2 linked regions of the Homo sapiens genome follow. The protein of the gene in region 1 purifies or fractionates together with the protein of each later gene. This does not show direct contact. Each region holds a gene or a part of one and is shown on either strand. Other genes may lie near its edges. The genes, in order: SLC25A38 and GALNT7.

Region 1 (3,821 bases):
GGTGGCCCACACCTATAATGCTAACACTTTGGGAGGCAGAGGTGAGCAGATTGCTTGAGTCCAGGAGTTTGAGACCAGCCTGTGCAACATAGCGAAACCCCGTCTCTACAAAAAAATTAGCTGGGCACGGTGACACACACCTGTGGTCCCAGCTACTCGTGAGGCTGAGGTGGGAGGATCACCTGAGCCTGAGAGGTCATGGTTGGCAGTGAGCCATGATTGTGCCACTACACTCCAGCCTAGGCATCAGAGCAAGACCTTGTCTCTAAATAAATAATAAAACAGAAGATGACTATGGCTTCAGGGTAAAGAGTGGATTAGAGGGGTCATATAGATGACAAATGGGTAAAAAATTGGTGGCCGTCACCAAGGCAAGAGATAACAGGGTTCTCAGCTGGAATGGATTGGTGGATTTGAGAGCTGTTTTGGAGATAGAGTGAACAAGTGTGGAGAGGCCAAGTCCAAGGATGGTGCTCAGGTTTCTGGCTGGGGTGCTAGAGAAATGGCATGGCATTCACTGGGATGGGGCACCTTGGAGGAGGAGCTGGTCGGAGGTGTGGGAGAAAGGTAAGTTCAGGTTTGGAAACATCATCTGAGGTGGCCATCTGAGTACGTGGCTGTGTGAGACTGAGCTCCAGCGAGAGGCTGAGAGTGTGGAGGGGAGGGTGGAAATGGAACCCTTGGAAGTGGATGAAGAGCCATGGGAGTATGGTTCATTTAAGGGAGAGGCCAGAGAAGTGGGAGGAAACCCAGGACAGTATTAATCTCTGAAGCCAAAGGAAGAGAGCATTTCAAGGAGGGAGTGGTGGTGAATAGTGGAATGCACTGAGTGGCCTAAGTATCCTGGATTTTCACTTTAGACTGGGTGGTATGGTGAAAAGAGTATGAACTTTAAGTCCTGGCCAGTGGCTTCAACCCCTGTGACATAGGACACATTTGTAACCTCTGTGAGCTCCAGTTTAATCTGTAAAACGGGTTTAAAATACCTAGCTCATAAGATGCTATGAGATTTTGAGGTGGTGTCTATAGATGCCTCGCCCAGTGCTACTCTGGGAGCAGAGTGGAGGGTGGGTTGGCATAGTTGAGGCTGGAGACTGCTGCAGAGGTCATTAGGATGGATCAGTGGAGGCCAGACTGGGAAGATTGAGGGCTTGGTCAGTGGGACTTGGTCATGTAGCAGCAGGCATGGTGAGTTTTATGTGTCTCTGAGGTTTCCAACCTGGATTCCTGGAGTATCCCAGTGTGGATTGGAGAAGAGGCAAGTGTGTGGAGAACTGTTGACCAAGTTTCCATTTTGGACATGTTGAATTTGAGATGCCTGTGGGCCATTTGAGGGAAGACAAGGAGACATTAGCAGAGTCTGGGGAGAGGCCAGCCTGGGCTGGAGATGTGGGCATTACCAGCATGTGTGTGAAGCCTGGATATGGGTGAGGTTACTCTGAAAGGAGATAAGAGGAGCAGTCCTATGTGAAGGGCAGGCCAAAGAAGAGAAGGAGAGAGAAACCAGAAACTGTGAGGAGAGGCACTCAGCTATATGGCATGTACCAGAGAGGCCAAGTAAGATAAGGGCAGGGACAGGAACGGGGTCCTGGGGTGCAGCAGGTGCTTGGTGAGCCCTCAGAGGCTGTGTTAGTGGAGGAGATTTAGCTGGATAGCAAACTGGGGGGGCCTGCGGAGGGACTGGCACAGAGCAAGTGGAGATGGTGTAGCGTCAGGCTGGAAAGATGGATGCTTTGGAGCCTGTTGCCTGGCAGAAGAGGAGATGCCAGTGGGAGCGAGAGACCCAGTGTGTGAAGAAGGGGGGCTCATTAATGCCACAAAGTCTTGGGGAGAGACTAGAAACACAGAACTCATGAGAATATTGGTTGGCAGAAGAGCAGGACACCTCTTGGGGAGAGGGAGTTGATGTAGATACAGACTTGCTAAAATACGCACACCTTACTTGGTTTTACCTGTTGTCTTATCAGACCACCCTTTGGTACTTCAGAAGTTATTGCATCGTGGTTGTAAACTCCAGTTTTTAATGACCTTAGTTCCCCCCACCCCCTGCCTCCAACAGTCTTATGAGGAATTCCAGTTATAACTGGCTTCTTTGGTGGAATTTGAGATACACTCTCTTCTCTGTTAAGCAAATACTGCAGATTACAAATATTTCAGTTCCAGGTAAGTAGTTATGTGATGTGTAATGGAAACTTTATATATATTCATCTTAATGTTTTAGGGCCACAATGTGTCATTTATTTAAAAAATAATAGTGCAAATGCCACTTAATAAGGGAAGAGGTCTTTGGGGATGAATTTGCCAAACATTTTTGGAGAAGATAGCTATTTGTTTATTTATTTATTTATTTATTTTAGGGAAGGGGAAGAAGGTCACTGGTTGGATTTTAAGTACCTTTTCACAGTCATTTGTGATACTACTGGGTTCTAGGGGTCTGGAGAAAGGATGCTGTCCTGTAATGATAGCACCAGTGCTGGAAGCTGCAGCTCCTGGAACTAAGGGAGGTATATTTAGTCTTTGAAGGAGTTCCACCCTTCCAGGTGGTGTCTGTAGATTAGCCAGTGTATATGACGGTTCATGGGTTGAAGGAGAAGCAGCAAAGCCAGGGGAGGCTACTGGTCTGTAGGACTGTGTGATCTGCTTAGGGCCCAGTGAGATGGTAAGGGGAAAGTTTTAAATGAAGGAAATACTAGGTTCTACAGGAAGTGGCACTTACATTTTACACAGTGGTTGAGCTTAAGGTTTCATTTGCTTTGGCTTGGTCCTATAAATACCTATAGGTCTTAGAGCGAAGGGAGTCTGCACATCATCAGTTCAAAGTGAAAGCACTGCATTCAATTGACTTTGCTTTTGCAAAGATAGGGAGATGACCAGTAACTTTTTGAGTCAGAACAAATAGGGAAGAGTGGTCAGTGGCATGGAAATAGTTTTGCTCCCACTGAGCAATATGTCTATCAGCAATACGAAGACCAGAGATACCTCTTGCAGCATCCAATGTCCTCAATAACATTGCAGTATTTTTAATTTCTGGCTATACTTTTTCCTTCTCCGAGGTATGAAGAAAACATGAGGCACCACCAGGTAAGTGTCTAAGAGACCATTATAAAGGAATTTGCTGGTCAGGTATAGAGAAAGGTGAGGCTCACACAGGCAGAGCTACTGACACAATATTGTCTTATCCTGCAGTTACATCCGGTGATCAAGGCTTTCCTGTGTGGCTCCATCAGTGGGACCTGCTCTACCCTCCTTTTCCAACCTCTGGATCTCCTTAAAACACGCCTGCAAACCCTCCAGCCCTCAGATCATGGGTAGGCCCTGCATTTCATTGGGGAACTGATTTCAGCAACTTCTCAGACACAGGAACATCTTTACTGTGTTAAGTCAACTTCCATTCTGTTGGATGTTCAGAGAGAAACACAGGCCATGCCCAACTTTCATATGTTCTCTGAATTGTTTTTATATTTGACATTTCTTTTTAATTAAATGGGGTCCGTTCCTGAGCAGCTTCCTGGAATCGGCTCAGTGACATTTACACTTTATTGTGTTAGCTTGTGATGTTATAACTGTATTGCCTGGCATGAGAGTACCAGGGGATTTTCTGGAAATAACATCAGTATTATCTGTTTTTGTTTTTGTTTTATTTGTTTTTTGAGGCAGATGCTCGCTCTGTTGCCCAGATTGGAGTGCAGAGGTGCGATCTCAGCTCACTGCAACCTCTGCCTCCCAGGTTCAAGGGATTCTCCTGCCTCAGCCTCCCAGGTAGCTGGGATTGCAGGTGCTCGCCACCATACCCAGCTAATTTTTGTAATTTTGGTAGAGAT
Region 2 (3,821 bases), on another chromosome or scaffold:
ATAATGACAGATGGTGATAAATGATAATGACACATAATACTGTCAAGAGGACTTAAGGGCAGGGTAAGGAAAGCCTCTCTGAGGAGGTGACATTCGCTCTCAGATCTGAATGATAAAGAGTCAGCCAATCAGAGAGTGGAGATGAAGGGAAGCTGACCAACTGCGGAAGCATAGTTCATCTGGGAGTGGATTCCTTATGGGTTGGTGTGTGAAGGGATAAGGGCCAGAATGACATCGAGGTTGTTTTGAGTAGCTGATTAGGTGGCTGCTGAGATTGGGAAGATAGTAGGGGAGTGAATGGAGGGGGCAAGGCTTCTGTTGGTGTTCTGGGCATGTGAAGTACCTGCTAGGCGTCCAGGTAGAGCCATTAAGGCCTACTGATCATAGATTGTAGGTTGTATGATGCCAAAGTCCAGAAGAGAGGCCACTCTGGAGATGTGCATTTGGGGCCATCAGCAGGTAGGTCGTTTCATGGGACTGAATGAGGTCCCCGAGGGAGAAAACACAGATAGAGAAGAGAAGACTAGACCCATCCGTCAGAAACGCCAGCATTTAGAGTTCAGGAATAGAAGGAAAAACCAACAGAGGACACTCATGCTGCTCTCTCTGTACTTCTTGCTTTAATATACTTTTTCCCTATACTCTTATTTTACCTGTCCTATTACAGCAAATTATGTTTAACTCCAACTAGACCATAAGCCTTTCAACACACAGATCTCTCTCTGAGGGCCCAGACAAGTATATCCAACTGTATGCTTAACATCAGGACTTGAATGTGTAACAGGCATTTCAAACTCGACATAGCCTAAATTGAACTTCCTATCTCCTCCCCCCAACCCATCTTTGCTGATTTCTTGGTCAAAAACTTTGGAGTCTTCCATGAATCCTGTCTTTGTCTCGCACTTCATATCTAGTTCCAGAATCTGATCCCTTGTTGCCTGGTCTAAGCCACCATCATCTCTCACTGAGACTAACTTGTTGACTCTCCTACAGCCTATTTCAAATACAGCAGTCAGAGTGACTGTTTTAAAATAAAGGCAAATCATGTCCTTCTTCTGCTAGAAACCCTGCACCTTCACCTATGAGTGAAGACAAAGTCCTTTCTGGTAGTCTCCAAGATCCACAACATCTGTCCCCATTCCTCTCTGGCCTCACCTGCTACTGCTCTCCCCACTCCACTCCAGCCCCATGTCCTTACTGGTCCTCAGACTCCCTCCAGGCATGTGCCTGCCTGTGCTGTTCCCTCTGCCAGGAATGCTTCCTTGCAGATACACGCATGCATGGCCAGCTCTCACACCTCCTTCAAGTCTGCTGACCTACCACTTCTCAGTGAGGTCCACCTTGTTACTTCCCAACGCCCTAGCTCCCACCCTAACTTCCTCTTCTTTTCCTTTTTTTCACCACACTTATCACCTTTTGCCATAACAGACAAATTGTCTACTATGTTTTTTAACTTATATTCTGTCTTTTTTCCCTTACATTCCCAGAGTGAATGGAGGCAGGGGCCCACATTCACTGTGGCATGCCCATTACTGGGGTAGGTGTCTTTATTTTGTTCACTAGTGTTTCAGAGCCTACAACATGCCTGGCACACATCAGGTACTTAATATTTGATGATTGAATAAATACATGAATGAATAAATGGAATTTTCTGTCCTCCTTTTACTGTCTCACTCCCAAGTATATCTTCAGTTTAACCTCTTCCCATTCTGACATCTGCACTTTATACTTCATTTCTCGGCATTTCCTTAACATTCCAGGGTAAACCCCTACCTGTTTTAAAGGTGTCTCTTGGGGCAGTCTTTGGAGCTCCTCCAGGCAGGGTGAGCAGCTCTTCCTCTGTACATTCACACCTCTGTCCTGACTGGTCCACTACCCCTCTGTCTCTCTACAGGCGGTGAGGACCATGACTTGCACCTCTTCATATCCTCAAAACCTGTTATCATTATAGGTGCACAGTCCATATTTGCTGACTGAATGCAAGAATAAAACATTTTATCCAAATAGTATAGCGATTTATAATTCAGAGAAATAAATGGCTTTTCCAAAAATAGTTCTTTTCATACAAAATGTACATTCCAAAGATGGAAACCTGTGTTTGCTTTTCATCTACGTTTATAGAGAAAAGCCTCACTGCCTGGTCATGTGCCATGCATGGCCTATGCACCCTAGACCCCTACAGGCAGCTACCAAAAGTGCTGCATAGCCATTTGGGAGAGGTCCCTTACAAATCCAGTCTGTTCTAGATATCTAGGGCCAGGCCAGTGTTTATTACCACTGTGGTTAGGTTCTCTATTTGCTTCTCATTCACATGAATTACTGTGATTCTGAAATTGCAATTAATGGTAACTTTTTTTTTCTCTGTGGTATTTTACGGAAATGTATAGTCCTTTGCTCTTAGAGAAAGAACCCATTCCAGTGTTGACTTCAAGACCATAAGTTATTTCAAAACTATGTAAAGATTGACAATCCAGTAATAACCTGTCACTACACATACCCAGATTTTCCCTGTAAACTGTAATATTTAACATGAAATGTTAAATTCTGATGCCAGAGTTCATCAAAAACTAAACTGTTGCCTGCTTTTTGCGTCTTTATTCATTTTTTTAGATCAGAGGCTTCGAAACTGCTTACTGCATTGATAGCATGGGAAAAACAAATGGAGGCTTTGTTGAACTAGGACCCTGCCACAGGATGGGAGGGAATCAGGTAAACCACCTTACTTTTGTGTTTAAGTTGTTCCGTATTGAGGGCCATCAGGTTTATTGATCACAGAGTGATCTTTGTACTTTGGTTTTCGATTTGGTAATTTTGTTTGTTTTGATAAAGTAAAACATTCTGTAAAAAAATTGACAGTGTTAAAACATTCACTTAAATGATGGGAATAATAGCAGTATTGGTTTTCACATAAGCAGTCAGAATCTAGAATTAATGTCTAATATAAGGGATTAAAATATATTCCTGTGGGAGTATATATTTGTCACTACCGTAACTATGTAAGCCTAGCTCCCTAACAATTTTTTGCAAGTATTGCTCACTAATCCTCATCTTTTTGCAAATAGAGTGTTACTGCCAGTAATGTATATTTCACTAATATATATTCTCTTACTTATGTGGGTATGTTTTTGCTTTTTCATTTTTTCACATTGTTGGTACTTAATAAATTTGTGTTAGTGACCCATTTGGTATCTTAGAGACTAAAGAACTTAATGATTTCAGTGTTAATAAGGATCTTCACTAACATCAAAATAAATATAATTTGTCTGTGGACTTACAGTTCTAAACAAAATTATGGAAAAATAAGTTAGTCATTCAATTTAATTATAGGAGTTAAGTTTCTTTCTTTTCAAATGCACATCAGCAGGGAAGGTGCCTCTGTTACTTAATTCTCTCTTTTCCTTTTACAGCTTTTCAGAATCAATGAAGCAAATCAACTCATGCAGTATGACCAGTGTTTGACAAAGGGAGCTGATGGATCAAAAGTTATGATTACACACTGTAATCTAAATGAATTTAAGGAATGGCAGTACTTCAAGGTATTCTGCATTTTAACTTCTGAAATATTATATGCTTTTCATTTTCAGTAACATCTAGCATGTGGAATTTAGATAAATAAATCTTAAAACCTGCATTCAAATTCACTTGCATTTTCCTCTCATTTAGTCCCTTGCATAGGTTTTCCTGAGCACTGGATGACTCATTGTTCTATAATGAGGCATCACTTTTGTTCTCTCTTACAATATTGTCATGTAATGAGGCCACGATGATGTCTATAAAGAGCACTGCTAATTTTAGTAATACAAGAAAGTCAGTGTTCTGTG

What was found.
Region 2: the proteins of SLC25A38 (region 1) and GALNT7 purify together in Homo sapiens (affinity purification with mass spectrometry; one large-scale study listed by BioGRID and IntAct). This does not show direct contact.

Annotation. Positions count from the first base shown.
Region 1 is NC_000003.12:39,386,309-39,390,129, forward strand, and holds part of SLC25A38 (mitochondrial glycine transporter), read left to right. Parts: exon of another isoform or gene 1-1,534; coding exon of another isoform or gene 1,535-1,557; exon of another isoform or gene 1,558-3,053; coding exon of another isoform or gene 3,054-3,081; intron 3,082-3,186; coding exon 3,187-3,308; intron 3,309-3,821. UniProt on the Homo sapiens protein: Mitochondrial glycine transporter that imports glycine into the mitochondrial matrix.
Region 2 is NC_000004.12:173,315,024-173,318,844, forward strand, and holds part of GALNT7 (N-acetylgalactosaminyltransferase 7), read left to right. Parts: intron 1-2,610; coding exon 2,611-2,709; intron 2,710-3,407; coding exon 3,408-3,536; intron 3,537-3,821. UniProt on the Homo sapiens protein: Glycopeptide transferase involved in O-linked oligosaccharide biosynthesis, which catalyzes the transfer of an N-acetyl-D-galactosamine residue to an already glycosylated peptide.